2 separate regions of the Homo sapiens genome follow, and region 1 is linked to region 2. The links come from fine-mapping of genetic effects on gene expression. A gene starts in region 2. The other region holds a variant in brackets. All regions are shown on one strand. Distances are between the middles of the regions. Region 1 overlaps CTSC (cathepsin C). Region 2 holds the start of RAB38 (RAB38, member RAS oncogene family).

Region 1 (16,315 bases), 120 kb before region 2:
ACCTGCCCAGGGCAGCACTCTAATCTTCTCCTGCCTTTCTGATCTTGGGTCATAAGACCTTCATTTCCAAAGATGTCCTGTGTCATACCCTAAAGGAAGGAACACTGAACAGAGAGAGGCTCAGAAGAATCTGGACAGGCCTTGCTGTGTTTACATCATTCCCTTTATGTCCAGTCACATCTCTACATGGTTGTCAGTTGTGCCTATTTGATGAAGTCCCCATATAAGGCTCACAAGGACAGGGTGCAGAGAGCTTCCAGATAGCTGAACAAGTGGAAGTTCCTGGAGGGTGGCGTGTTCAGGGAGGGCATGGAAGCTGTGTGCCCCTTCCCCCATACCTTGCCCTACTCATTTCTTCATCTGTTTCATTTGTAGTATCTTTTATAATAAACCACTAAACATTAGTTAGTATTTCTCTGAGTTCTGTGAGTCACTCTAGCAAATTAATTGAACCCAAGGAGGGTGTCATAGGATCCCCACATTATAGCTGGTTGGCCAGAAGCACAGGTAAACAACCTAGGGCTTTCAATTGGCATGAGAAGTAGGGGGCAGTTTTGTGGGACGGAGCCCTCAGCCTGTGAGATCTGATGCCATCTCTAAGTACACAGTGTCAAAACTGGATTGGAGGACACCCAGCTAGTATTCACTGTGAAATTGGTTGCTTGCTTGATTTGTGGGGAAAAACCCACATGCATTTGATCACAGAAGTCTTTTGTGTTGACAGTTGATAGTGTTCAGTGAGAGAATTAAAAAAAAATTGAGTTTCTTCTTCAACATACTCTCTCAATGTGAAACCACAGAAACTATTTCCATTCAAAGATGGAAATGGTTTGTTTGCATCTTAGTTTTTATTTATACATCTTAGAAGAAATGTCCAAGCTTTGTTTTTTCTCTCACCCTATATATAAAATTACCTATGAGGCACAGATTTTTATGATCCTTGATTATATAGACTTTGTCCAAATTGTGTGTTTTATAGCATTACTGTAACTTGTTATAGTAATCTTTGTGTATATTATGTCTCTTAACATTGTCTTCCATATTGTTAATGACCATCTCATATTTATCTCTGTATCATGTATATCTTCAACCAATGTGACTGGCTTAGGAGAAAAAATTAGTGAACAATTAACTAGTGTTTGTGTAATCTATACAATTGTCAAGGTTACAATTGCTATTTTTGAAGAAATCGTTGTTGTTTTTCTCTTTGTTTCATCTCAGTTCCATTTTGTCATGTATTCTTTTTTTTTTTTTTTTTTTTTTTTTTGAGGCGGAGTCTTGCTCTGTCACCCGGGCTGGAGTGCAGTGGTGCAATCTCGGCTCACTGCAAGCTCCACCTCCTGGGTTCATGCCATTCTCCTGCCTCAGCCTCCCGAGTAGCTGGGACTACAGGCACCCGCCACCACGCCCAGCTAATTTTTTTTTGTATTTTTAGTAGGGACGGGGTTTCACTGTGTTAGCCAGGATGGTCTCAATCTCCTGACCTCGTGATCCGCCCGCCTCGGCCTCCCAATGCTGGGATTACAGGCGTGAGCCACCGCGCCTGGCCCCTTGTCATGTATTCTTAACCTGTGTTATATCTAAGAGAAGCTGTGAGAGACGGGACCATTTGTGGATAGGTGCAGAGGGCATGAAGTAGCCCAGAAAGAATCTTTGCCATTGACTAAATTTTAGCCTAGTAAAAAACATCTGGTAACCACTGAAAAACTAGAACAGTGTGATATGACAATGCCCAGTTGAATAAGAAATTCAAATAGTTTATAGTAACAAAAAATAATTTTTACCACATTGTGACTAGTGCCCTAAAAACAAATTTGAAGGAGCAGAGAGAGAGAGGAAGTGAGTTTTCGCTGGGGGCTGGTGAGTGGAGGCTACTTTATGAGCAGTTTTGAAAATTACAAGTTAGGGAAAAACTCTTAGGGGAGTTTTAAGTGGTGAGCAACAGGCACTTGAGGTTACAGGAGCAGCAGCATAAAGATATAGAACAGAGAGGCCATTTGGCAGTCTTGGGGAAACTCCAAGAAGTCGAATGTGTCTAAAGCTGTGGTTCTCTCTCTGTGTGTGTGTGTGTGTGTGTGTGTGCGCGCGTGTGTTTGTGTGTGTGTGCATGTGTATGTATGTGTGAAATCGCTAATACAGAGAAGCTGTTAGAACAATTTTCTCACTTCCCAAAAATGTCCGTTCATTCATGGGCCTAGGCAACTCTCCTTTGTGTGTCTTACAGCCCAACACTGTCATATAAGGTGTGGTTCTATAATGAAACAGTTTTATCTGTTGTTTACGGAGCTAGTCAGCCTGTGTTATGCTTGTTACTGGTTGAGGGTGTCCAGGTTCTTGGCTTCTTGAACAAAGAATTGGACAAAACTCACAAATGAGGCAAGGAAAGAATGAAGCAACAAAAGCGGAGATTTATTGAAAATGAAAGCACACTCCACAGGATGGGAGTGGGCCTAAGTAAATGATTCAAGGCCCTGGTTACAGAATTTTCTGGGGTTTCAATACCGTCTAGAGGTTTCCCATTGGTTACCTGGTGTATGCCTTATGTAAATGAAGAGGGTGGAGTTAAGTTACAAAGTCATTTACTCAGTATAGGCCTTGTGTTAATGGAGAGGGTGTTACTCCTGGGGGTTGTGGCCCATGTAAACGGAGAGGATGAAGTGAAGTGACAAAGCCCTTCGCATTCCTGCCATTGCTGAAGTGTTTCCACTTTATTTAGTTCTAGGAAGTCAGTGTGAATTGGCCTTATGTTCCCTGCCTCCAGAACCTGTTCTCCTGCCTCACATAGACCCTTTTTTCCCTTTGCCAACTTCACTTCTTTTACAGCCACCTCACTACCAATGTGTCTGTCTCCTAAGTCAAACATCAGTGATTCCTCTGTTTTCTCTAAACCCTTCTTATGTCTTCTACTTCTCATCTCTTTCTTGGTCAAAAATCTTTCAAAAATGAGTAAGAATGCAGCTATTCAGGCAAACTAAAAATAACATCACAGTGATATACAAAACCAGTGTCATTTCACAAAGGAAAATTATCAATACTAGATCCTGAAAAAGAAACAGCGAATGAAAGCCATTTACACAACTCCATTGTGTAATTGACACATTGAATCACTCATAAAACAGGTGCTCTGGGTCTGAATCTAGATCCTAGCTAGTCTGGTAGCTGAAATCATAGAATTATAGTAGAGTTTAGGAAATCATCCTCAAAGGAAAGATTATATGTTGATATCAAATGTATATTTCCTTTCTAGGCCCAAACCTGCACCACTGACTGCTGAAATACAGCAAAAGATTTTGCATTTGCCAACATCTTGGGACTGGAGAAATGTTCATGGTATCAATTTTGTCAGTCCTGTTCGAAACCAAGGTAAAAAAATAAGCCTAAGTTTTTTGTTAATTTGTTTGGAACTATTTATTGAACAGTTGCTCTGTGTGATGGATTTCGGGGATACCTAGATGGAATGGGCATGATCCCCTTTTTACAGAAATAGAAAATAGGTGGCCTATGAATTATTCTTTCCTTTTATATCCATGACAAACTTTAGTAAAAAATTTTCTTTTCTACTGAGCTTAGCATTTATTCAGTACTCTTCTCAATATATTTTCCAGGTAGCTAGTGACAATCAGAGTGATATGTAAGACAAACTCATTTGTCCTCCTAGTAGGAAAGATTCTAGTAGAAGCAAAGAATTGTGTACCATTCTGCAAGTGGTTTGTTGGAATCTTTCTTTGATACCTGTTCCTGTATTCCCCCACCCCCATTAATTTAGTCATTAATTACTACATGAACCCGTAAAATAAATCCTTAAATTATTTTCCTGGTAGATTTTTTGAGCTGTGTAAGGACCTTTCAATTCACTTTACATTAGAATACGATATGTGATGGTAAGTATTAACCCAGCTTCCTGAGTGATGGCGTGAGGGCGGAACCCAGGTTCATGAAAAGTATTCCTATTATTGAATTTTACCAGTTATTTTCAGAAGTTTGATACAATGTGAGTTGATTTCATAACATGTCCTCTAACTGCACTTGATAGCAAATTATCTTGTTATCCTGAGTTGTAGCCAACAATGACTTGGAGAATCTATGCAATACTCAGTTTTATTACTTCTAAGCTCATTTTGAAGATAATACTACCCATGGCTGATTTGTTACTATAAAATAGGTTTAGTATTTGCTGTCTGGAAACATTCTGATTAGTGTCTCCTGGGAGGATTATAAATTTATAGTACCCAAAGATAAACTGTTGTTTCCCTTTCCTAAACTTTTAGTGATAATCAGTCTCTGCCGTGTCTCATTTTCATCACTTGCCCTCCAAGCTCCCATCTCACTGAATTCTTGCAGTGTTCTGAATGTTGAGAGCCCCAAGTGGGTCTTATAACAGCCAGTCAGCAACATTTCTGTTTTTCATCTGACACCAAGGGTCTCGTCTCTTTGCTTTTCTACCAGTTATTCTGGGCTCTTCAGCTCTAAAGAAAGTATAGGTCCTGAAATCTTTCCCTACCTTCTCAATTTCCTGGGGAGGGCTTCTTTGGAAAGTGGGATTGGAAATAAGATAAATTTGAAGATAATTGAGAAATGAATGGAAAGTGAAATTGAAGGGTCCATGTTAAGAGATTGCAAGTTATGCTATCACCAAATAGATTTTTTGTGCCTGAGAGGATTAATTCATAGTGCATATTATGTGTTGACTTTATCATTGAGGTCCTGGCACATGATAGCATTGGCATGATATAATTTGAGCTACTGATACTATAGTGTTGCTTCTGGTGTTGTTACCAGAACATCTAAAATATATTAGGATTTTTTTAATGGCAGAGGAAATGAAGACTAATATGACATAGTCCTTGTCCTAGTGATTTACAGTTTAGCAAGACATACAAGCAAAACATTAAAGTAAAGCATGATAACTACTTTAATAAAGCATTTTTTAAATTCATTGGTAACATAAGAGAAGGTAGAAGAGTTTAGCAAACCCTTCCCAAAAGAAATGATTGACAAGTTATATGAGATAATAATTCAGGGAAAGGAAATTCGACTTTCTAAAGCCAAATTATTTGACATTGGTTTTCATATAGCTTGGTAAAAGCTGTTATTTTCTCCCATGTTCTTTATTCTTTGACTGTTATAAGTATGATTTGTACAGAGAAATGGCAATTTCAAAACAGAGGGCTTTGATGGATTAATTGCTTTGAATTGATCCCTCATCTACAGTATCTTGTCAGGTACTTGAGAAAATAATGTACTTAAAGTTTCCTCTTTTGACTTTCTTTTGGTATTCTATACTGTAAGTTGGGGAAAAAAGTATTTTCTCTTCCTGCTAATTGGGCTACTTGAAAATTCCCACCAACTTTGCCAATACCAGTGTTCTGTATAACCCAGAATTCAGAATTAGCTGCAATTAAGGGAATTCACAGCTTTTCTGTAGTCAGAGAGCAAATTGAAATTAAAGAAAAAAGAAATAGTGGGAGGACAAATGAGGTTTTACCTTTACACTTGAAAACAGATTTAAGAACAAGCCTTATACCTAGATTTATTAATACTTTGAGGTATGAGAGGGAAGAGAAGCTTAGAAATACGGCAGAATGGGCTTTCTTTGTTCTTCTCCCAGCTATGCTGTTTTTATTTATTATTGTATTTTTAAGAGAGAAGGGAAGTGTCTCTCCTGGGTCACATTAATTAGGAAATACAGAGTGTTTTCATAATGCGTAAAGTCTAGTCCATTTAAGTCTTGTTTCAAAATGCTATTTATATTATTTGAGCAGGAAGGCAGAGACCTTAAACTGCTCCACCCAATTCATTTTACACAAAAGATTAAAAAGAAAAAAACAGTGTCAAAAGGTCAAGTGCCCAGTGTTGCACAACTAATGATAGGCAAAACAAGAGAGGAGGGGAAAAAAAAGAATCCTGACTCCCGACTCCTAGTTCAGTGTGTTCTTCACTGTTAGAAGGTGCTGCTGAACATAGTTATACCATATGAAGATCACACTATCTATTTGAGATTGTAGAAATTTGATTACTGCAGAGCTCTGGCTGGGCTAGATTCACTTCTTATTCTTTATTGCATTGCAGTATTCTTAAGAGATAAATGGCTCTTTTAGAATCAGATTGGCCTTGGCTGTTGAAATGAGGCATTAATTACCTTGGTAGCTGACACATTCTTACAGGTCAGGGGCTTGATGAAGTTTATCTTCTTCCCTTGTTCCTGTGATTGCTCTGTAAATAGAACACATTCAGAGCCCTTGAATGCACTTGCAGCCTGTGCCTCCCACAGTGAT[C/T]GATGGTCAGATAATGGGAGTTTAATGACCAGTACTGAGAGAGATTATTTCCATGGCTGCTATGGGCCAAGAAAGCTGGGTGGTCAGAAAGGGACCTTTTCCAGACTCTCCTGGGTTGTGTTATTTCTTTGACATTGGTTTCCTTTCATGAGGCGCCAAGGTGTATTTGTAAGTTGTCCAGTGTTGCACAGCTAATGAGGGGCAAAACAAGAAAGGAGGAAAAAAAAAGTATCCTCACTCCTAGTTCAGTGTGTTCTTCACTGTTGGAAGGTACTGCTGAACACAGTTATATGTTCAGTGTACAATGTACAATGTTCTTTGACATTCCGTCATTTGAAGGATGGGTCCTATGGATAGTATCATCTGCATGGTTTTGAAAACAAAAGATATAAGCTAATTTTGCCCTGTCTAGTGACTACGAGACAGGGAGAGAAAATCTGAATATTTGTTAAAGTAGACACAGACCCATAAATTGAAAAGGACACTAATCCTGCCTTAGGAGACAGTAAGGCACTTGTCCCTGCTATCTATTAGCTGTGTGTCCTTGGACAGCTCATTGCTTCTTTCTGAGCCACCGTTACACGTTATCTATCAAGTGAGCAGGTTGTACACTAGATGAATTCACAGGTCCTTCTTCCAAGTGCTTTTCTAATCTTCATAATTTAGATAATCTCTCAGTAGCAAAACAGTGTACAATATGGTCAATCTGAGATTTTTAGGGGGAGAATTTTAGGGAACATCAGAAATGGCAGTAGTTAAAAGGAAATAGGACTCACAGGCTGACTTCTCTCTATAACTTCACATGGTAGAAGGGATGAGAGTTCTCTCTGGAGCCTTTTGTATTAGGTCACTAATCCCAAAGGCCCCACCTCCTAAGACCATCACTTTTGGGATTGGGGTTTTAACATGATTTTAGAGGGACATAAACCTTCATCTCATTGCATTAGAGATATTTGAAAGCTCAGCTCACGTGTATTCCTCCACAGCTCACATGTATTCCTCCATCACCCAACCTGATGGCTTTGAACGTTGTAGACATAAATCCTTTCATCATTATCAAGAATATTGCCAAAAGCTTCTCAGAAATTATGAGGGGTTTTTTTAGTTTCTAAAATATTCTCAAAGAAAGTCCCATGTACTAATGTTTGCCTTTTGATGAAAAAGGATGAAATCTTAATGATTGCCTTAATAAGCTCAACAATGCTTGTTAGTTGAGTCTTCTTATTGTGCTGATTCTTATAAACAACAACATTCAGTATAAACATTAATGTATGTGATTCACTAAGGTTTTTGCATGATTCTCTGTGAGGCTTCAGATGTCTCTTGGATTATGTGTCTTTTTTTCATCGCCAGCATCCTGTGGCAGCTGCTACTCATTTGCTTCTATGGGTATGCTAGAAGCGAGAATCCGTATACTAACCAACAATTCTCAGACCCCAATCCTAAGCCCTCAGGAGGTTGTGTCTTGTAGCCAGTATGCTCAAGGTAAGTGTTGCATTTCAGACACCATTTATGAGCTATTTACCTGTGTGCAGCTGGCTGTTGTTGGCAAAGGCAAAAGGATGATGCAGTAGAGAGAGCGCAGTGTCTATAGTCAGAAAATCTGAGTGCAAGTCTGGCCCTATCACTTATTAATGGATGATTGCTCATGGAATTTACTGTACCATCCAGCAAAATGTCAATAGTTACTATATATTGAGTGAGCTCTGCTTGTTACATATATTGCCTAACAATGCTCAAAACTCTGAGAAGTAGTAAGTATAATCCCTATTTATGGGCGGGGAACAGGAACTAAGAAATTTTTCTAATAATTTGAAGGTCTCACAGCTTTTAGCATTGGAGTTTCACTTCTAATCATCGTCTCCAAAACCCAACTTTTATTAAAACTATACTAACACTGGTTTCTCTCTGGGAGAATTTTAAAATTCTGTACTTAGGGCTGGGCACAGTGGCTTATGCCTATAACCCTATCACTTTGGGAGGCTGAGATGGGTGAATCTCTTGAGTCCTAGAGTTTGAGACCAGCCTGGGCAACACGGCGAAACCCCTTCTCTATTAAAAATACAAAAAATTAGCTGGGCGTGGTGGTGTGTGCTTGTAGTCCCAGCTATTCAGGAGGCGGAGGTGTAAGAATCACCTGAGCCCAGGAGGTCAAGGCTGCAGTGAGCCGATATCATGCCACTGCACTCCAGCCTGGGCAAACGGAGTGAGGCCCTGTTATGAAAAAAAAAAAATCTGTACTTAGGCTTTCAGATCAGGCTGTATGTGATGTATGTCGAAAACACAGCTATAATTGATTGAGGGAGAAACGTTACCATTTTAAAGTTTATGCTTTCAAGCCCAGATTTGGCCACTAGGAATTTCCCAGCTCACTAGTGAAACTGCTGATGAGTGATTATTTGCCAGTGAGCCTTTCATTCTTTCTAAAATATGTACTACTAGTTGTGACTTGTAGGCTATAGGGGCTATAATATATCAAGACAATCTTTATCCTCATGAAGCTTACAGTTAAGTAAGAGATAGAGATTAAATAATTATAACAACAGAGTGAAGAACAGTGAAGAAAAAGTACAGAGTTATAATATATATAATAGGGCCAGGACTGCATGAGGAAGGTAGGAAAGACATTTCGGCAAGAGGTTGTCAGGGAAAAGACTTGCTTGAGAAAGAGCCAAGTTGTGGGGTCTGGCTGCTTAGCAATGACCATAATACCTAACTTTTGCTATTTTTACATGAAGTAACTAATTTAACCCTATGAGGAAAGTACTACTACCATCTAGATTTTACAGGTAAGTAAGCAGAGATACAGAGAAGTTAAACTCTTCACACGGCTTTGGCTTTAAACCTATATAGGCTTCAGAGCCTCCCCACTTAACCACTTTGCCATAGCTACATCCATATTAGGTGCTAAGTAGATATCTGTTAAGTAGAAGGAGGATGAAAGGATAGTTAGCTAGTTGGAAAATGGATGGATGAATGAAGTGATGCTTAAGCTAAGAACAACTTTCAGGGGTAACATGCAAAGAATAATGGAGCAAAGAAGAAAAAATAGAAAATGGGATAATCCTTTTTCTACTAAGGGGTAACCATGTGTGTTATTCATCTTCAGGCTGTGAAGGCGGCTTCCCATACCTTATTGCAGGAAAGTACGCCCAAGATTTTGGGCTGGTGGAAGAAGCTTGCTTCCCCTACACAGGCACTGATTCTCCATGCAAAATGAAGGAAGACTGCTTTCGTTATTACTCCTCTGAGTACCACTATGTAGGAGGTTTCTATGGAGGCTGCAATGAAGCCCTGATGAAGCTTGAGTTGGTCCATCATGGGCCCATGGCAGTTGCTTTTGAAGTATATGATGACTTCCTCCACTACAAAAAGGGGATCTACCACCACACTGGTCTAAGAGACCCTTTCAACCCCTTTGAGCTGACTAATCATGCTGTTCTGCTTGTGGGCTATGGCACTGACTCAGCCTCTGGGATGGATTACTGGATTGTTAAAAACAGCTGGGGCACCGGCTGGGGTGAGAATGGCTACTTCCGGATCCGCAGAGGAACTGATGAGTGTGCAATTGAGAGCATAGCAGTGGCAGCCACACCAATTCCTAAATTGTAGGGTATGCCTTCCAGTATTTCATAATGATCTGCATCAGTTGTAAAGGGGAATTGGTATATTCACAGACTGTAGACTTTCAGCAGCAATCTCAGAAGCTTACAAATAGATTTCCATGAAGATATTTGTCTTCAGAATTAAAACTGCCCTTAATTTTAATATACCTTTCAATCGGCCACTGGCCATTTTTTTCTAAGTATTCAATTAAGTGGGAATTTTCTGGAAGATGGTCAGCTATGAAGTAATAGAGTTTGCTTAATCATTTGTAATTCAAACATGCTATATTTTTTAAAATCAATGTGAAAACATAGACTTATTTTTAAATTGTACCAATCACAAGAAAATAATGGCAATAATTATCAAAACTTTTAAAATAGATGCTCATATTTTTAAAATAAAGTTTTAAAAATAACTGCATTATGGAGTTTATGTTTACTTCAGGGAATTTTTATCACTGACTCAGTAAGATTCACTTATGTTACCTATGTAAGCATTTATTTAAGAAGGAAAAGCATTTGAAGATATTTCAATTAAAAACAAAACTATGAACCTTTATGACAGGGAGATATACTCAGATAATGCCTAGTGAATCCTAAAATTATCCTTGGATGTTTGATGAGTCTGAGACCTCAGAGAAAAGAAATAAGAGTTTTGACAAAATCTGGATATTGGTGAATTTATTTTCTATGGTGTGTATCTTGTATTTGGGAGTATTGCTTAGTCTTCAGTAGGTGAGCAATAATAGCTTAATGAGTGAAATACTAGCAGCTTAGATTTAAATAGATTTTTGGAATCTCCCAGAGATATTTCACAGTGGATATGAAACCTCTATGCTAAGTAACATATGCCTTCTCTTAGAAATTATGTAACAGGAGAATAAGGCAGTCAGAGCTCTGAAACATAAACACGGACCACAGCCTTTTCAAGCTGGAAAGGACCATAAAGATCATGTAATTTAAACTCTTTGCACAGATAGAGACTCAACTTAGAGGGCAAGAGATGTGTCCAAGGTCACACAGCTGGCAAGTGATGGAGTCATGCTTAAAACTTAGATCTTCGAAACCGAGTTCTCTTTGAGCACCTTCGAGCACTGAATCTCAGCATTTCCCACCAGAGTATCTGCAATCACCAGGGATACTAGCTGCATGCTTGGAAATTTCACCTTAACATTCTGAGTTTCAGAGTTTTGTGCAAAACCCACGTATTTTCTGCATTAAAATTCACTATAATGATGTTTTTACCCTCCTTGAACTGCAGTAGGGCTCCAGGAGTATGCACCATTTAAAGTTTGGCTTCCTGGACCTCCTGGCATGCTGCCACATACCTTTGATCTTTTCACCACATGGTGGCACAGAAACAGCACTGGAAGGCATAGCCAGGGTCGGAATCATTGGAAGGCCTCCAAGGAGATGAGATACATTTTCTTTTTATTGTTACTGATTGAATGTAATTTCCATCCTATTTTGTGCCCAGCCTCACTGCTATGTGAACATATAAACAGACCTTTGAAATCAAGCATAAGTTTTTTTTCACTAAAATTCATGAAGATACTATCTGTCAGTTTAACAAACACAATTCTATTTAACATGTAAGCATGAATTTATTCTCTAGTTTTCCAGTTGGACAGCAGTCGGCTGACACATGAGAACAACTCATCATGATGTAGAGTGCCTGTGATTTTGCACTATTTCATGAGGGCCCTGACTGGCTCTTAAGTAAATTCATTGCTGGTGTCATTCATTAAATACTTTAGGAAATATTAAATGGCTAAATACTGGTGTGAACCTAACTGGCATGGAAGTCAGATTATACAACATGTTTGCTTGAGGACAAGCAATGATTTGAAGAGGCCCTAAGTTTTCAGAGATTATGAGGGATTGCCCAGAATAAGAACTTAAGATAGACTACATTTCAACTTGGATTTATCTACTGTCGAAGTCTGCTTTTCCTGTTTCTGTATGACAGAAAGATCATTTATATCATCCATGTTGCAGATTTCATCAAATACAGTGACTAAATGGAACATTAGGGTTCCACAAACCATGCGATTAGACTGTTAAGCTGTACAAAAAGCAGTTGGTGTCAGTATCTAGAACTTTTTATATTGATGCTAATAGAACACATACTCGGAGTCTTTTAACAAATGGAGCTCTAGAAAAAAAAATCAGATGGGAACTCTGGCTAACCTCCCCAAAGACATTCCCAGAAAATCTACAAGGATTATCTACATAAATGATGCCACAGGTCACAAAGAAGAAAAATAATATTTAGCTGGGCAGTCTAACACAAGCATAATATTGACTCTGGAGCTGTAGTGCCTGGATAAGAGTTTTGACTCTGTATCTTATTAGCCATGAAACCTTAGGCAGTTTCCTTATCTACCTATGCACTGTGCATCCTTTCTTTCTTTCTTTCTTTCTTTCTTTCTTTCTTTCTTTCATCTCTCTCTCTCCTTCCTTCCTTCCTCCTTCCTCCTTCCCTCCCTCCCTCCCTCTTCTTTTCTTGTCTTTCTTTACTTTTTCTTTTTTCTTTTCCTTCCTTTTCCTTCCTTCTTCCTTCTTCCTTCCTTCTTCCTCCTTCCTTCCTTCCTTCTCCTTCCTTCCTTCTTCCTTCTCCTTCCTTCCTTTTTCCTTCTCCTTCCTTCTTCCTTCTCCTTCCTTCTTCCTTCTCCTTCCTTCCTTCCTTTTCTTTTCTTTCTTTTCTGTAAAAGTAGAGAAAATGGCATAGATATCTCTCTCACTGTCCGAATTTCTGACTTTTTTTTTGAGTCATGCTCACTGCAGCCTCAACCTCTTGGGACCAAGCCATCCTCCCACCTCAGCCTCCTGTGTACCTGGGACCACAGGTGCATGCCACCATACCCGGCTAATGAATTTGTCCTCTCTGAACCATTACCATTGCAACAAAGGAACTAAATGTATTTGTATTTGCATTTTTAACAGCATTACTTGCTATCTAAACTCAGGCCCTTCATCATTCCAAATGGAGGTGCTAAAGATAATTAAAGACAATGCAGTTTCCCTGATCATAAAAACTTGCTCACAGAACTCAGGAACTGAATAGATTTGGATAGTAAGGAATATGTATACATATTTCATAGAGTTCTCTGAGGGTTAAATGCCATATATATATATATATATATATATATATATATATATATATATGAAGTATATAGAACAGTGCTTAGCATATGGTAAGGAGTAAATAAATATTATCTTTTTCTGAACTCAAATTGTAAAATAATATTTTGCTATGAGGAATCAGATAAGATGTATTCTATAAATAAGCTCTATGACAAGAGGATAGAGAAGGGCTTATGAGGGGTTTTTTGTTTGTTTTTTTAAGGGCGAAAAGAACCTACAGAGGAACACTAGCACAAGGAAACGCACAGAGAAAAGCAAAAAGCTTTATGAGTTAGGCATATGGTTTTAATTTTATTTTTTACTATAAAATTTTTTTATCCCTCACTACCACCATTCTTGTGTTGCTGCCTGTGGGAAGAGAACAAGTCTGAGAGGTGATGGAGTTTGAGAGACTACCACAGGGATGAGTAACAGGACCCAGCCAGGGAAAAGACATTGCAACTTTGAAGTGAAAAAGACTGAAGGTAATGTAAAGTCATAATAATTTGATTTTCCTATTCAGGTTCTAAAAGCATGAAGATAAAGTAAGCATAACAGATTCACATCACATTAATGCTGGAAGGTTATCTAGTCCACCTCTTGCTAAAAATGGGCCTTGAGAGGTGAAGTAACATGCCTGAGCTTCCAGCTAATAAAGATAAATCTATGCTTCAATATGTCCAGAACTTTCTATTGTACCTGCTGCCTTCCAATTAAGAAAAATGGCAAAATAATGTTTCCATTCTTAAATGTTGTGAGACCAGTAACCTCACCTTGTTCTTTAAAATCATTTCCAAGATTTGTGCCACCTCCCAGAAATCCTGTTCTCATTTCTTTGGGGCAGGTACTCTGAGTGCCAATCCATGTGTGGTGGTTTGGAAAGATTAATATAACAGTTTTCTTCTAAATATAGTGATGTTAATATAGTTATATCTCTTAACTCTAATGAAGGTTTATTTTTGGTTTAAAGCTAAGTAGAATCTTCCTGACCAAGTTTGGGGAGCTTTAGATATATCAGAATCTTCTTTGATGGGCAGCACATGGACTTAGAATTGTGTATTGGTAGTGGGTCAGTTAGTCACTGGGCCTAATGAAATATTAACTGTAAAGTATTGACCTCATTGAATTTTAGTTCCGATTAAAAGTGCAAATTTGCGTGAAATTGCCTGGGACATAAAATAATTGGAACTTCAGCAGACTTTCTGGTCATGCCATACTATGTCCTCCTAGTGATAGGAAACTGGAAATTCAGGAGATAAACTAACTCAGGCAGAAAATGCAGCACATGCCTTTTGTGTGTGTGTTTTTCCTTTTTCCTTTGAGAAGTCCATTTTTCAATATCCCTTTTCTTTAAATCTCTTTTAAGAGTTAGTAGAAGAAATTTAACCTCTTCTTTTCCAACTTTGAGGATGTGATGCTGATGTAATACTTTGGTTTTTAACTTTATGTTCTTAAAGACAATTTGTCTTCTTGAAATTCAAGTCTGTAGGTGGTTAAATGGGGAAAGAATGTGATAAACTTCAGACTCCCCAAGTTGAGAAAAAAATAGCAGACTTCTTTCTTCCTCTAATGCAAAAGGTCTTAAAGAGATTGAAATCCTAGCAATCAATTGAAAGAAATAAGTTAGAGAAATAGCTTTCTCCTGAGGAAATGAGGGAAACGCCATAAAACTAAGCGTTGTGCATTAAAGTAATCATTGAGATGATTTTTTTTTTCTGTAATGTATTTTCTGGACCTTCAAAAGTATTGAATAGTTTCACTGTAGTTTAAGATAAATGACAGAAAATAAGTGCTTTTAGTATCAGATTTTTATACCTTCATTCTCTCTTTTTGGGGGTTTCTGAAGAACTAAAAGTCTGCTTTTCTTTTAGATTGACTATTTCTATGCCACTATAAGAAATGGGCACTATTCCCAAGAGATAGCAGGTGCAATCCTAGTTCAGCAGGCTAAAATTCAGTTGGGTGAGAAGGATAAGCCTATGGAAAGAAAGTAAACAAAACAGCATTGTGCCACTAGAGAACCCAGAAATAAATTCATAGATTTTCAGCCAACTGACAAAGTTGCCAAGAACATACACTAGGAAAAGAACACCCTCTTCAATAAATGGTGCTGGGGAAACTGGATATCCATGATGTGGAGGAGAATGAAACTAGATCCTTATGACTCACCATATACCAAAGTCAACTCAACATGAATTAAAGACTTAAATGTAAGACCTGAAACTATACAAATACTAGAAGAAAACATAGGAAATGCCCAAGAACTTTAGCTTAGGCGAAGATTTTATGGTTAATATTTCAAAAGCATAGGCACACAAAACAAAAAGTATACAAATGGAGCTATAGTAAACTAAAAAGCTTCTGCACGGCAAAGGTAACAACCGACAAAGGGAAGAGACAACCTGTAGAATGGGAGAAAATATTTGCAAATGATTCATTCGACAAGGGACTAATATCTGGAATATAAAAGGAGCTCAGACAACTCACCATCAAAAAACAAAAACAAACGTACAAAAAACCCAAACAATCTCCTTAAAATGTGAGCAAAGTATCTAAACAGACGTTTCTCAAAAGAAGACATACAAATGGCTAGTAGGTATATGAAGAAATGCTCAACATCGCTAATGATTAGGGAAATGAAAATCACAATGAGACATCATTCCAGTTAGAATGGCTATTATAAAAAAGACGAAAAGTAAAAAGACACTTGTGAAAATGTGGAGAAGAGGGAACTCTTATGCACTCTTGGTGGTAATGTAAATTAGCACAGCTATTATGGAAAACAATATGGAAGTTTCTCAAAAAACTAAGAATAGAACTACCACATGATCCAGAAATTCTACCAATGGGTATTTATCCAAAGAAAAATCAGTATATCAAAAGGATATCTGCATTCCCATGTTTATTGCAGCACTCTTCACAATAGTCAAGATATGGAATTAAGTCAGCTGTCCATCAATGGATGAATAAAGAAAACATGGTATATATACACACTATGGAATGCTATTGGGCCATAAAATAGAATGAAATCCTGCAATTTGCAGCAACATTGATGGAACCTGTGGTTATTATATTAAGTGAAATAAGCCAAGCACAGAAAAACAAATATTGCATGTTCTCACTCATATGTGGGAGGTAAAACAGTGGATCCCATGGAGGTAGAGAGTAGGATAATGGTTAACAGAGGCTGGAAGGGTATTGGGGGAGAGGATAAAGAGATGTTGGTTAATGGGTACAAGCATTCAGTTGAAAGGAATAAGTTCTAGTGTTTGATAGCACAGTAGGGTAACTATATTTAATAATAATATA
Region 2 (16,315 bases):
GGAATTTCAATCCAAATTGGGAAGAGACAGTCAATTCCCTTTCAGGCACATGGAGCTTGTCTTCATGAGCTAAGCCAGGGCTACTATGGCAGAGACACTCCAGGACAGCGTGAGTACCTTGTCTAACTGGTTTTGGAGTATCAGCCTGATCATGCCACCCATGAAATAGTGCGTTGGTTCCCTTAGGAGGGCACACCTCTCAGCGCTGATAAGATTAGTGTGATCAGAATGAGAAAGGTTGGCTAGAAAAATACTGAAACCTAAAACACCCAGCACTTGGTGGCCAGACAGGAAACTTCATTGTCTCTACACACTGAATGCTGAAACCTGGAACAGGAGCCACTGGAAATCCTCATCCAAGACCTATTCAGTACACATTTGACTTTAACTTTGTTTTCTTCTTTTGATATCAATAACATTTCCATAAAAATGAAATGAATATAGAAAAGCAGGAAAATATATAAAAAAGAAGCAATAATCTCACTATCCAGAGATAAACTCTAATATGTGGGTACATAATTTTCTGTACCTTTTTTCCATCGACAATGTGTGCATGTTTGTGTAAAATGGAAATTATGTATTTTATGCTAAATTGGGGACTCTAACTTTTTGTGATTTGTTGACCTCCCATTTAAAAATGTTATGAAAAAAATTGTGAACATTTTTCCAGCTGCAATATTTTCTTCAACATTGTTTATAAAGGCTGTATAATGTGCCAGCACATACGTATACCATTACAATATTTAACCTCATGTGTATTTAGGGAGTTGTGAATTTTTGTTTTTATAAGCAACACTGCAATCGGAATTCTTAAAGCTAAATCGTCACATACATCTTTAGTGATTTCCTTACCATAAATTCCTAAAAATGGAATTAACAAAGGGCACATGCATTTTAAGGTTTTTGATACATATAACCACATTTCCCTTTAACAACTTTTTCTTATGTTAGTCCCACCACAGGATCATATGATAGTATCCATTTTTTACATTCTCATCAAAATTGGATATTTTTAGTACTAAAATATATTTGTCAATTTAAAAAGTAAAAAATGGTATTACATTATTGCTTAATTTTCATACTTTTATTACTATCCTAGTGAAAAATACACTTTTCACATTATTGGCTTTTTGTTTGTCTTGTGTGGTCAATTGCTTATTTATATCTTTATCTAATTTAGTGTTTAAAAAATTATTAGAACAATTTAATATAAGGTATATTTCCTTTTGCCTGTCTTAAATGTTGTAAAATTTTTCTCATTCTGAAAGTATCATTTTTCTTGCTTCTGGTAATTGTTAATGTCTACACGTTTAGTTTTTTTTTTTTCCTTTTATTATTTCTGCCTTTCACATAATATTCAAAGGTCCTTTCTCCACAATAATAATGCATAAATATTCACCTTTTTGTTATAATAGTAATTTTGTGAAGTAGTGGAAATGCTGTCAGGAATTTGTCTGAGATGGGTAACAAAGAGAGAGGAATCAAGAGTGACTGAGTTTTTGAGCTTGGTAGACTTTGGTGAGGGTGGAACCACTGACCAAAAACCAGGAATACAGGAAAGGGAACAAGTCTGTTAGGGTAGATAATGAGTTCAGTTTTGCACATGTTGCATTTAAACTGTCTGCCAGAAAGCCTGGTAGAAATGCCCAACGGGCAGTTGGAACAAGTTTATGGAATGCAGGAGTAAGGTTGTGTTTTAAATACAGATATAGAAATCATCAGCAGACATTTGATAGTTTAACAACATGTTCTTTTCAGTGCATATCCTGGGCCAAGCACTATGCTAAGCACTTCACAGAATTTTATTTGGTCTTCTCAAAAAAAAAATAGGAGGTTAAAATTATTATCCTCATTTTATACATGAAGGGACAAGCTTGCAAAAGTTAAACTACTTTACAAAGTTCTTATGACTGGGTAGTGGTAGAACTTGAATGTGAAATCAGGTAAGCTCACCTGATTCCAGAGTTCCTAACCCCATTTGCTCTATTGTCACAGGAGTAGATGAGCTCAAGCAGGGAAAGTCAGAGTCCCAAGGATGAAGAATAGCAAACTTTAGTGGATGGGCAGAAAAGAAGGGAAGTTGTGAAGGAGTCTAAGAAGGTCAGAGTGGAAGGCAGAAGGTCATGTGTATACATGCTGATGCTTTAACCAGAATGGAAGCATTTTTGATGGCAGGGACTTATATCTTATACACTCTTTGAGATAAACGTGAGACCTTTCTTCTGACCCTGATCCTCAAAAAACTCTGTTACAATGCTTTGTACATAAATATTTCTTCGTTTATGCTGTGATGGTCTGTCAGTAATTTTCTTGCGTTAACCTTCTGAGCTAGACCCTACCAGTCTCTCTGTCATCACCCATTATGGAATAGGGGTTCATTCACTGTACAGCCTCAGTACTATCCTATCGCCTTCTCTGAGAGCAACAGAAGTAGATTCCTTGTATATGCTCTCTATGTGCACTGGGTCAGACCTCTCCCCACAAATGCACAGCATGCCACTTTTACTTGTGTTGACTTTCTGCCCGAGTTGGTGAGAGATTATGGGATATATCCTTTTATCTTTGAATCATAGATTTTTCTTTTCTTCCTTTATTGGCTGTTTCCCTGCATAGTTAAGACTTTATCAAATGGAAATAGAATCAATCTCTTTTCTTTATAGCCTGAATATTTAGTAGCATAGCAGAAACAAAGCTACAGTAGAAGCCTGGACCTGGAATTTATCACATGCTAAAGGAGTGTGGTATAGTAGAAAAAGCACAGATTTAGGAATTACTGGTTACGATTCTCATGCTGTCACTCCATATCTGTGACTTTGGAAAAATTATTTAAATTCTTTGAGCCCTATTTCCCTCATTATAAAGTGAAGATACTTGCTACAGAGTGGTCGTGAAGATCAAATAAACTTACCAAGATAAAGGGCTTAGCTCATTGTAGGTTCCCAGGATAAGGAAGTTGAAATTCTAGTACATACAGAATCATTTTTCTCCATGTTCTCAGATGCTTGCCTTTCGGCCATTCCATAGCTTATTTCCACTCATCCATGTTAGATGTGTTAGTAGAAAAATACACCCCGATTCAGCCATGCCTGTCTGGCACAGCTAAGGCACATAATTTTAGTTGGTGATAAATACACTGCTGAAAATGGTTTAGGTCATACTCTGGTTTTCTTGATTCATACTACTGGTGGGTTAAAAAATGCACTTACAATCAGTTTCTCATGATAACCCGTAAATATCCTATTGTAGTCTTTTTTTTTCTGGAAAAAAATCTAGCCAGAAATTTCTCATAGACTGAAGAGTATTTATTTCAAGAACATCCCATACAGAATCCATCTTGGCCTCTCTCCAAATAACCCAAAAGTTGCTTCCTACTTCTAGACATCTGCTGCAATCCTGAATCAATACTAGATGACTCAAATTGCAAGTTAGCACAGGTTTCAGACAAGCCTAGTGGGTAAAGAGAGAACTTTTTGAAGACAAGAAAGAAATAAGCTGCAACTTTAACTTGGCAGACCTATTTATTAAAATTGTGGTTTAGGAGAATTTTCCAAAGCCCCTATAGCTGTAGATCTCATTTGAGAGCCTCAACTTCTCCCTCTTCTTTAGGAATGAATATTCTTTAGGAAAGTCCTGGCTTGTTCCTGTTGTTTGGTGTAATTATTCATAGTGCCCCCTTTCACTCTCAAGAGTCATAGTTTGAATGATAAAATATATGGTCATTTCTTCCAGGCCTTTTGCAGAGTAAAATTCATCTGTTGTAAGATATATTTCTTGTATTAATCTAAGAAAAATTAGATTACCTTTTCTATAACAGAGCCCTTGGGACCCCATCTTGCAGTCATTTACATATTTCTTCAGAGCAATAATTAAAAGCTCACATAAGCTAATGAATAACTCCCCATGGCTCTCTTAATGGCAAAAGCAAATAATGTGACTTCACAGGGGCTCACCAAACACAGCAGCTCTAGGAGGAAAACATGAGGGTTTGTCCCTTCAAGTTTACATTTGCAAAGCAATTTGCAATCATTGTAGTTTTTCCATTTCATAAGACTAAGTACCCACATTGGACAGAAAGGGAATGGAGACTAAGAGAAACCTAATGCTGTGCCTTCTGGGATATCATTCTTGGCTTGAATTCTGAGCACTTTGTGGTCTCACACACCTTTTACAAACTTGAGTCATCAGCCTTCCCGACCTTGGTGAGAAGATGTGCTGTGGTTTAGCAATTTGAGGGTAGTAAGCTTGTCAAAACATCACCAGAGATGTTTTGAGAATTACTGTGGAGAACAGGTTTCCATGGTGCAGTGTGGCTGCTGGGAGGGGGACGAATGGCACAGCTGTTCTCTCCATGGGGAGGAAGCACTGGATCTTTTGTGTCAGAAAAAGCTGAGATCCTCCTGATAATCCTAAGCCATCTTGACAGGTATATGTTCAGGTTGGGGAAGATAGGTTCTGAAGAAGCATCATAATTGCAGGGGACAGGGTTGAATGAAAGAGGAGGCAAGAATGGTCTAGCTGCTTGATAATATCCTTTCCATCTATTCACTGTCTGGCTTGATCCAGTTTATAGTTTGTCCCTGGCTACCTGGCTCCCTGTCTGCAGCCTAGTTCTGAGTGTAGAAAATAAGTTCAAAGCAAGGAAGGGGAGTACATGAAGGTTTGTCCTCCAAAAAGAATGTTCTTGGATTGCCTTTGTCTTGTGGGAAAATGTACAGCAGCAGAGGAAAGAATAGCACCATGAAACCAGAGGAGAACTATGGCATCATGTTTGCTTTGAGATGGCCTTTCTTCCAAACCTAAAAGAGGAGAGAAAACATCACCTCTTTGGCAGTGGTGCTCTTGTGGGGTGACTAGAATCAGCTAGGGTGTCACTCCTACTAGACAATGTCTAGAAGACCCAGAATTCTGATATTTTAGAGTCCAAAGGACTTTCCAGAGATCTTGCAACCTAACTCCCTCATTTTACCCAAGGGACTTTCAGGTTCAGAGACCTAGGCGCCTTTTACGAAGATTTTACTGAACTGCTAGGCTGGGGTGCTTACCAAGCTACTGTAATCTAAAAGTCTTAAAAATATAAACCGAGAGTAATTTCTTCCCACTGTGAAGAATGATCATGAGACCTAAATGAGTACGGCTGGAAACAAAACTGCACATACTTCCTGCCTGGCCAAGGAACTTGCTCACCATGGTTGGCTGCTGTCCCTGAGAGAGGAATCTCCTACCCCCAGAGAGGCAATAAAACTGAAGCTTCAGGACCCCTTCCAAGGCCCTAGACCTAATTATATATTTTTGATTTTGCATTCTTTTGCTCAAAAAGCTACTTCCTCCAATTTTATCAGCTTCAGGACCAGAAATCCTGAACTTTGCCCTGCCTGTCCTACCTCATAAATCCAAATGTCTGATGTTCCAATATGCTCTTGCTCAAAAGAGAACAGATAAGGGTGAGGATGACTCTGCCGGGACCAGGCTTGGGAAAACAGTACGGGGCTGGTAAGAAAGTTGGGTTGGGTATAATTTTGAAGGCTGGCCCACAAGATGTCTCAAACTCCTACCTTGTTTCTACCCCAGGAGCTTGTTGGCCAGACAAAGCCTGTCTCTCAGATTTACAGACCCAGGATTTTAGAGCTGGCAAAGGTCTCATTTTGTCATCCTCCCTAATTTTGCAGGCATTTAGAATGGCTTAAGCATCTTGGGCTACTGAATTCCCCTCCCTGGGAAGTGAGGTGACATTGTTGGCTAATTCTTTAAGCAGGTAGAGTATTTGTCTCACTTGTTAGATGTGATCTTCTTGGTGTGTCCTCGCATGGGTGGAAACCAGTAAATGAGGCCTACCCAGCTAAGCACTTCAATAAAACACAAACGACTGCAATTCTACACACTGTCACTTAGTGTCCATTCTGAGCAAAACTTCTGAGTTACTCTCTGAGGAAAGATGAAACTGCACAGGACAGTGCCTGTGGACAGTATTTTAAGCTTGTCCCTCATTTCATAGTAATAGCTACAATTTATTTACCACCTACTATGGACCCAGCATTTTATCAACAATTTCATTTGTATTTATTTATTTATTTATTTATTTATTTATTTAGAGATAGAGTCTTGCTCAGGTTACCCAGGCTGGAGAGCAATGGTGTGATCTTGGCTCACTGCAACCTCTGCATCCCTGGTTCAAGATAGTCTCCTGTCTCAGCCTCTCAAGTAGCTGGGATTATAGTCACCTGCCACCACGCCCGGCTAATTTTTGTATTTTTAGTAGAGACGGGTTTCACCATGTTGGCCAGGCTGGTCTTGAACTCCTGACCTCAAGTGATTCACCCACCTCAGCCTCCCAAAGTGCTTGGATTACAATCATGAGCAACCATGCCCTGCCATAGGTATTATCATTCTCCTTTCGTTGATGTGGAAACCAAGGCTCAGAGGTTATGTGACTTGTCCCGGGTACACATCTTCAGCATCCCTCTGCTTGTTTGGGGCATGTGGAGGCTAAAGTTTAGGGAGTGTCAGGCCAGAAGAGGAAGGCAGAAAGACAATGGCCTTGCCAAACCTCCTTTCTCCCTTTCACACAGGCCTGTGTTTAAGTCCTAGTTCTAACACATACTAGTTATGTGTGCCCTTGAGAAAGCTGCTGTTAATCTTGGTTTCCTTATTTATAAATTGAAGAAAATAACCCACTTCATAAAGCAATTGAGAAGATGAAATGATAGAATGTGAGCAGAGCTCCTTCACAGCACATTCAGGTACAAAATAGCTCATTTTGGTATAAACTGCTCACCCCCTAGCCCTGAATGCCCAATTTCTCATTTTCTTTATGTCTTTACTAAATTGTCTCCATCTTACTGAAACCTTCCCTGGCCACCCTATCTAAAAGGCAAACCCCATATAATCTCTTCACATCCCCTTTCTGCCTTATTTTATTACCAATTAATATATGACAAATTGTATTTATTTTGTCTTGTCCTGTCTCCACCCACAAGAAGGTAAATTTTTCTTAGGCCAGTAGGCATTGTCTGCGTTAGGAGGATGATACAGAAATCCTAACGCAGACAATGCCTACTGGCCTCAAAAAAATTTACCTTCTTGTAGGTGGAGACAGACAAGACAAAATAAGTACAATTTGTCATATATTAATTGGTAATAAAATGTATATTGGTCAAATGAATGAAAACAAACAACAAAAACAACAAAAAGAAGTTGGGAACCTAAAGACCTATGTTTGAATTTGGTTTTTTTCCTTACTATTTGACTCTGGGTCCATTACTTAAAATGTCTGGTCCTTAGCTTCCTCATTTGTAAAATAGGAAGAAAAATGGTATCTATTATTAAGACAGCTGGGATGACTAAATGACATAATTTATAAACCCTCTGGCATATAGCGAGTGCTCAATAAATGTTTGCCATTATTATTATTTGTAATAATCTGACCGATTGTTAAAACTGTCTTTCTGTGCAGCTCTGAGTTTTTAGGATATGGGAAGAGGCTAAAAGTCACCAGTGCCCTTGGCATTTTCGGCCCAGTTGTCCTCCTTGTTAACTGATTACCAGTTGAATGGGTGTGAAAGTGCTCAGTGTTCCCACCTCCAAGCTGCTCAGAGGTCAGCATTGCCATTCATTGAGAAATAACAGGCTGTGAGAGCTCAAATGACTTACTTATGGTCCCTCAACTTAAAAACCAGGGCACGCAGGAACCAAGCCCAGCCAGTCTTGGGCTTCCTAATACTGTAATTTCTCTCTACAGTGTGGGGTAGTTAAGAGCCTGTGACTTCAGACCTGTGGTCAACGGGGCCTTTCACCGGCCATCTCCCGCAGAGTACTTTTTCACAATCAGTTTTCTCGCAAGCAAAACGTGGAAAATAAGATCCACACCTCACAAGTTTGTGGCCAGGGTCACAGGTGAAAACAGCTCTTCGGAAACTCTAAAGCGCCGGATAAATAAGCGCTGCAACAGGCAACCACACGCGAACCCCTTTCAGCTGCCAGTCCCGGGACTCGCTCCTGTCTCCTCCCCTCTCCAAGACCGCGGAGTAGGAAGGAGGATTAACCCCTAGGGGAGGAGTTCCGCCCCCCAGCCCCCGCCCCGCCGCCCACGCCTCTCTCTGCACCTACACTTGCGCTCCCCAAGTCTCTCTCGTGCGCAGAGCCCAGGCTGCGCTTCCCTGGTCAGGCACGGCACGTCTGGCCGGCCGCCAGGATGCAGGCCCCGCACAAGGAGCACCTGTACAAGTTGCTGGTGATTGGCGACCTGGGCGTGGGGAAGACCAGTATCATCAAGCGCTACGTGCACCAGAACTTCTCTTCGCACTACCGGGCCACAATCGGCGTGGACTTCGCGCTCAAGGTGCTCCACTGGGACCCGGAGACTGTGGTGCGCCTGCAGCTCTGGGATATCGCAGGTGAGCGCGGGGGGAGGGGGTCAGGGGGATAGAGCGCCTCGCGGCCGGTTTCCAGTCTCGAGGCAGCGGCTTGCGGCCAAGCGTGAGATTAAAATCACTAGGTCGCGAGGCAGTTTTTCCTGGTGGGCTGGAAACTTAGTTTCAAAGAAAAGAAAAACGTCTGAAACTTCAAGTGCATTCCCTGGCGCTTTTGGGCTATTGCTTTAGCTCCTTCCCGCACAGTCCCCTGGGATCTCTCTGCCCAGAGCAGGCCTCCCCAGGGAACCAGAGGAAGATTGTCTGCAATTGCATTCTGTTCTCCACTCCAGCTCGTTTTCTGGGCGCGGGCAGTTCTGCCAATGACGCAGCCCAGTGTCACGCACGTCCTTCCGTGCAGGGGCGGACCGAGGGGAAGCCCCTAGGCTGGTTCACAGAGGAAACCGGGATAGTTCCAGGCTAGCTGGAGTTTGCCCATTCCTGTCTTCAGTGGCTCACTTTATTTCAAATTTTGTCACCTTTCTCTCTGCCCTTAAGACAAAGGAGTTTGAGGGTTTTTGTTTTGTTTTTTTTTTTTTTTTTTTTTGCTTTTTGCTTACAGTAAGCCAAGTACTTTTGTGTGTATATGTCAGGGGCAAAGTATTCTTTCTCCCTCTCTTTCTGTATTTCTATCTCTCTGGCTCTCTGTCTTCTATGAAAAGGAGGTTGTGTGTATATTTTAAGGCCATTTTTATGTAAGGGCCTATGATAGCCTTATGATTTCTTGATTTGGCCCTAAAGTTTTCATTGAGAGATCTGAAAAATGAGAGGTTGTTTGTTTTTGTTTTTTACAATATTTAAAATCAGATTTTGACTCCACAGGTTTGTACCAGAAGTTAGGCCTAGTCAAAAGTGAGGGTGCAATGTATCTACTCCAAGTGTGAATCCTTGGACAAGGCTGTTTGCAACCTGCGCATGACCAACCCCTCATTACAGATTTTAGCCCTGCCACTAACTAACCTGCTCAGTGGCTTTGGACAAGTCTCTTCAGCTCAGTTGCATCGCTGTTAAGTGGAAAGGAGTTGGGCAAGGGTCAAGGATCTTCCTGCTCAGAAGTTTTAAAGTCCTCTGGGATTCTCCATGGGAACAACTTCAAACAGTCTTATTTCATGGTCTGTGACACCAGGAACCTTTCGTTATAAGTGCTGGACCCAAACTAGCCACTTCTGTTTCAGAAAATGGATTCATTTTAGCTGATGCATTTGATTGGAAACTCTTTATCATGGCTTGAAACTAGAACAAATGTGGAAAATTTTTGAAAGGGCATTTGTGATCTGGGGACTTTCGTGCCTCTTTAATCATGAACTGCCAGGCCTTTTTCTTTTAGCATGTGAACAGATGAACAGATTCATGCATTTGGAGTCATCTTCAGCTGCTCTAGTAGCAAGGGGGTTATCAGAGAACAGAAAATGTTATCAGCCACTGTTGGATGGGGCTTTTCATCTAAAAAAATTCTCTCTGTGTACTTTCTTGCTGCATGTCATAATGTCTGAAAACCCTTCTGGCTGCTCGAAAGTCCTCAGGATTCAGATTTAGAAACGGCTTACTGTTTAAACGGGGATGTAGCTGTAATTTGGACTTCTGTGTACAATCCAGGTAACAGCATGACAGCAGAGAAGTTCTATGTCTGTAGATTTCAGTCTCCTCACATAAACAGAAGAGATGGAAGGGTACAGTGATTAATAGCCCAAATTCCAGAGTTGAACTGCCTCCATCTGGATCCTTACTTTACTCTGCATGTAGTAGGCAATCTTAGGTAAGTTCTCTAACCTCCTTGTTTTGGTTTCCTTACTTGTAAACAGGGAGAATGCTTTCTCCCAATAGATGACAGGTGAGCAACCAACAGTGCTAGCTGAAGGTGATCATGCCTGTTCTCTAGGAGATCTGCAAGGATTATTATCACACTAGCTACCATTTTTTTAAGCCTATATAAATGCTAGGCAAGAAGGATATGATATACAAGTGCTTATTAATTCCTAATAAATTGTGATCCCAATATTACATATATATTTTGTCCCCAAGTTATCACCATTTTCAGCTTTGCTCCTGACATACTCTCAGGAGCAATTTAACTCCCAAGCTCGAAAGCACTTCGTTAGCCATGTTTTGTAGACTGAAGTTGCAGTGGAGGCTGTAGTCACAGAAGTCTGTATAAATAAGAAATCTGAAGTCTTGGGAAGTTCATTCTACAGATACTGCGGTGGTGTTACATTCAACATCTCAGTAGAGGAGCTTGTTTTTCCCAGAGCTCTAATGCTCAGTGGTAACCTGTCTTTAGCAGCCTTAAGCCCAAAGGCCCTGTTAGCTGAATTATAGATTGGACAGCAGGCACAGTGAATTGGGTGAAAGCTAGGCCACTGTAGGAAATGGTTGGAACATGCACGTGCTCCATGTTTCATGGTTTAAGCTGCATAGGGAGCCATGTGGGTTATGAGTTCATGTGAAATACAACCTCAACTGCCCACCCAGACTCCAGTCAGCCAGGTGTACCTTATAGTACTTTCAAATCACAGCCTGTCTGTCCACAGATAAGAATGCATCTCTCCGTCCTTAGTGTTCAACTCTGGTGTGTCCCCGGAGAGAGCAGGTAGTGGAGGTTAGTGGGCCTAGCTTTGAGAAGGTTGTGGGTGTTCAATGAGATAGAGAAGACCTGCACTGTTCTGATAGGATATCATATACATTTGTTATTAAGGGAATCTTGGCTCAGCTAGACTCTTGATACTCATTTGGTTCAATGCCAAATAGGGCCCTTTTTAATCTACTAAATTCCCATGATGTGTCTCTTATAGCCATGTAGATTGGCCAGTCTGATCTTGAAAGACTCCAAAAAGTATCTCTGGGGTCTTGTGAAGTAGGCCTTGAAACAAGATGATAAATCCCACCAAACCCCATAGGGGACAGCAGTTGGCCTGGATTCCAGTGATTCCATGCTAGAAGGTCAGCTGTGTGTTCAGAGGCTCCTGATAGAGTCAAAGAAATGAAGTAACTTTGCCTGAGGCCACCCAGCTAGTAGAGGAAGAGCCAGATTTGACCCGGTTCCGTTTCACTCAGAGTCAAGCCTTGCTGTTTGCACTTGCTGGCCTGTGAGTGCCTGGCACACAGCTGGCCCACAGGGATTATGCCTTCTTTTTAAAGGTGTTGTTTCATTAGTAGGTGGGTTAAACTTACCTTCTCCTTTCTAACTGGATTTTTGGTATTATTAAGTACCACTGTGCATTCAGTGAAAAGGAATGAATTAAAATCTATTTCTGAAAATTTTATCTTGATTAGGATGTGAATTTATAGAGTTTTTAAAAAAATAGGTCATTTAGGGAAAATGAAAACAAAAAGTTCACACTTGAGACTCCACTTTTTTATTACTCTCCAAATCCAGAGACTATAATTGCTCATTCACCCTTTCAAAAAGAACTGTACTATCTTGTCTAGAACTCTTGATGTGCTTTGGGACTCTGATCTAGGCATTGGGACATTTATAGGGATAGTAGCTAATATTTCTTAAGCCCTTATTCTTATGAATGTCCAGGCATATTTAATCTATAATTTCCCAGTATAATAGCTGGTTAGGCCACTAGAATTTAAAATTGACCATTGAATCTGTTTTCAAAAGATTTGCTCTACTGTCCTTAATTTGAAAACAGAGCACTTCAGACATAGTTTAAATATATTCTAAATTTAGATACTCTGAAAATATAATTAGGCAAACTGTGAAACCTTGCTGAACCTCAATTGCCTCATCTATAAAATGATGATTATTTAATTTTCCTGTGATACTTATTTTATCTTTTGTAGTCTCTGTAAGCAAAAGGTTTATTATCACTGTCCTCAGGGTATAGGTAGCACATGGTCATTTATTCCAGCTTCTTTACTTACTAGCTTTGTGACTTGTGTGAGTTACTTAGCCTCTGTGCCTTCGTTTTCTGTCTGTAAAATGGGAATAATAACAATACCTGCATCTTAGTATTTTTGTAAGAATTAAATGAGTTAATTTATGCAAAGCTGTGCCTGACACATAATAAATGCTGAATGAGTGTTAGCTATTATTCCTGTTGTCATAATTGTTATTATTACAGACTGTTTTCACATACATTTTCCCACTTGATCTCCCCAGCATTGCTGAGGGTGTAGACAAGCAGATAGTCCTAAACCCAATTTTATTTAAAAAGATAAAAAATGAGAGAGGTAAGAGAGTTGCCTGAGATCATAAGTGGCAGAGGAGAATAGGAACAGTCGGTCTGTTTAGCTTCAGCTTACTTGTATGAGTGAGATAACCAAGTCTGTTGGTAATAAAAAAACCCAATCCAGTTTTATATTGCTATAGTGGAAAATAAATTAAGTTGGCAGACAATTTAGAGAGTGTTTCGAGTGTTTCTTTGCTATGTAAAAGTTTGACTGCAGAGCTCTGCTAAATAACAAATGCCTCTAAATACTTAAAATAAGATCTACCCTATAAGAAAAATATTTCCACTCAAGGCACATCTATACCAGCTTCCCCCACCTAAGCCATGTGACATGACAGCAGAAGAATACATTAACTGTCCCATAGACAAAGTAACAGGATGAAGGCAGCCCAGGCCCAGTGTCAGGAGTCCTTAAACTGACTCTTCACACCAGCAACTCTGACACTTATTTGGGTCACATTGTTATGTTGTTTTAGAGTTTGTGAAGTTCTTTCAGGTTGTGAAATTCAACCAAAGATAGGATTCGGACTTAACTATCTCTTTAGTACCGATTTCTGAAAGACTATTTCTTCAAGCAGTTGTAGAAGATGGGTCTTAAATGTCAAAGTAGTAGGTCTAGGAATGTAGAAAGAGCTAAATTTGGCGATGAGTGTGTCAAATAAAACCCCCCAAAATGCATATCGAGTCTGAGCCATGCTCCACTGGGCAGTTTATTGCCTTGTTTCTAGCTTAGCTAATTACAGATTTTCTAAATGCCACGTAAAATAACATGCTATGTTCTTACGGGTAAATAATGTGTACAGTGAGCAAAAATGGTGAACTTTCAAAGTAGGAATGAGGGATATATGGAGAAAACGCCTCAAGGCAGGACATGTCGTGTCATCTGGGTTTTAGAGGACTGATTCTGATAGAAAAGCAAGTAGCAGCTTGACCAAGGAAAGCTAAGGCATTTGAGAGTGGGAGGGGATTGGAAAAAGTAGCTCTATATGTGTGATTGGTTTCTTCAGCAAATATATGTATGTATATATAAAGTGCCTGGTATGTGAAAGTACTTAGGTGAGGGAAAAACAAAGAAGGATAATAATTGAATAAGATTTACTTCTTCATCCCAGCTTCATCAGCATGATGACACAAAAACAAATCACTGTAACAATAAGTAAAGAGCATTGATAGACATAACTTCAGAACACTCTCATGGTGCAGAGATGTTGTCCACACCTCGTTCTCCTACTCTCTGAGACTAAATCTGAGGAAGTTGACAAAACCTCAAGGCTAGTGTGATGTTTCTTGTGCTCTTACCTAGCACCAGTCATTCCCTGTGAGTGCGTCAGGGCTGCACAACTTGAGACAGAATTTCATCATCTGGCCCTCTAATTCAGTCTCCTTTGCTTGAGGATCTCATGCATTCCCAGGGCTTTAACTCTATGCAGATGACTTTAAAACTATGCCTATATCCTTGACTACTCATGAGCTCAGGCTTACAATTCCATCTTCCTGCTGAACATCTCCTCTACAATATCTCACCTATACTGCCTGTGAACATGTGCATAACAAAGTTTGTGTGAAAACAGGATTGTTTTTTCTATTAATAAAGTAATATGTGCTCAGTGTAGCAAAGCTGGAAAACAGAAAAGAAAAACAAGAAAGAAATACAAACAATGTATGCATATTTGCCCCCACTTAATGATAAGTAGTAAATGATGCTATTTGTAAGTCTAAACTAGACATTTGTCCACATTCAGTGGACTTTCTAGTTTGTGTTAACCAAAATACCTTACCCCCAGTTACTTAGGCTTGAAACCTCTGCCATCTTTTCTCTTTTGACCCTCATATGTCACCAGTCTCCAAGTCAGATAGTACATATGCCTCTCTTTTCCCACTGCCATAGACCAGAGACAGCACTTTTTTACATACCTGTTCTGGATCATAGCCTCTTAGCTAGCTCTAATCTCTGCCTCCTCCAGTTCTCAGGTGTATCAAAGCCAAATTTATCTTCCCAGAACATCTTTCTTTTCTATTGGCTATAGATTACACATGCTGTGATGAGAACAATGGAGGGGATGAGAATAAGGTATTAGGGGGGCTGATAATTAGAAAATTAGAAATAAGATAGATCCAAGTCATAGAGAAATTGAGGAATGGGTTTGTGAAGTCCTTGAATTTAAGAAGTGACTGGAGTCCTTGAGGCCTGGTGAAGTCAAAAGGAAACCCAGGATGTCTCTCCTATTGTGGTCTTCTTGTGAGGAACAAAGAAACTGTCATTAAGGGCTCAAGTGCTACTTAATTTTTTTTGTTTTATTTTACTGCATTTTATATAAAAATGCAGTTTTAAAACTTGAAGATTTGAGAAGTATAAGATCTTGCCTGAGAAACTTTATTAATTCACTTGATAAGCAGAGAAATTTAGGGGTGATCGGAATAGGTTGATCTTTGCTCTTACGGACTTTTAGAGTCTGGTGTGGCATAAAGATATTTATTTCAAAATAATTATTTAGTCATTGAAAAGTGATCTGATGGGAAAGTATCACATGCTAAAAGAAAGTCAACCAGGGGACTTACCATAGCCATAACATGGAGATGAGAAGACATCATGCGGGCTTCAGTAATCTGACCTAGCTGAAGATTACAATGTGTGAGGAAGGAGGTGTTAAGAGGGATGCGGCAGACAAATTAGGAAAGGTCATATATGCCAAATTAAATGTTAAGAACGGTGAAAGTGAAAATTCCTTACATTTATCAATTTATCAAAGCAATATTTGCAATTTAAATACCACAGTAATTCTAACAAATAGGTCTTCTTACTTCCAGTTTCATAGATGAGGAAGCTGGGCCAAGCATAAGTAGAACATGACACCTGGTACATAATTGTTGCTTAGTAAAAGTGGTTTGGTGTTAAGCAGTCACTGAGGTTCATACTAAAGCCATCACTCATCTGGTGAATTTTTGAGAATAGATGTTTTGAGTTACACTTACAATCCTTTCTCTCCCTCTTCTGATGATTCACTTTGGAGATTCCTTGAAAGCTTTCAAACCATTGAGAAGCTTTATTTATGTTACTTTCTTAGATTCTGGGATGCATATTCCCAGAAGAATACAGTGGACCTATTGCTCCTGGGGTAGGAATCAGGTTTATTCCAGCAAGGGATGATCCTTATCTTCTAGGATGGTGAATTAGACTGATGTCCTTCAACTTGGCAAGGTCAAGTCTGAGACTCTAGCCTGGGGTTCTTAATAATTGAGTTTTACTCATTTTTTCAGCTGTTCAGGAATTTAAGAAGTTACGTGATCTTAAATTACTCTTTGAAAATAATTCGGATTTTAACTTCTACTGTTCTCTCCTTCCTTTCATTGCCCACTCTCAAGTACTAATTAAATTTTGTCTTTTCTACCTTATAAAATAAATATCTCATCCATCTTTTCAATAGCCACATCTTCTTCACAACTCACCGGAACTGTTGCAGCAGTTGCCTCCTGCCCATCCCCTCCTCCAGCTTCCCTGCCAATCAGTTTGTAATCGACAGTGGTGATACCCCTCATCATGGTGTTGTTCTCCAGTTGATATTCTCATCTGGGACCCATCACTGGAGCCACAGCATTTTTAGAATTAAAGGCTGAACTTTTTAGCATGACAGTCACGACCATCATAACTGTCACTCATTTGTCATTCAGTCTTATCTCTCACATCTATGATTTTTACATTCCAGATATCTTACAGTGGCCCCAGTATACCTA

Evidence for each region. PIP is the estimated chance that this variant, and not a neighbour inherited with it, causes the effect.
Region 1: its variant is fine-mapped to the expression of RAB38 in uterus (GTEx, PIP 0.98).

Annotation. Positions count from the first base shown.
Region 1 is chr11:88,287,578-88,303,892 of GRCh38, reverse strand. CTSC (cathepsin C) reads left to right here. Exons shown (of 7, transcript NM_001814.6): 5 at 3,248-3,363; 6 at 7,629-7,760; 7 at 9,385-10,301. The coding sequence ends at 9,887. Among named protein-coding and RNA genes, the nearest start is that of CTSC, 42 kb to the left of the region's middle. RefSeq lists enhancers at 430-489, 5,818-6,511. The variant C/T (reference allele first, on the strand shown) is at 6,276.
Region 2 is chr11:88,167,258-88,183,572 of GRCh38, reverse strand. RAB38 (RAB38, member RAS oncogene family) reads left to right here and starts at 8,130. Exons shown (of 3, transcript NM_022337.3): 1 at 8,130-8,390. The coding sequence starts at 8,189. It overlaps MIR3166 (microRNA 3166), which reads right to left and starts at 7,071; the gene lies at 6,980-7,071.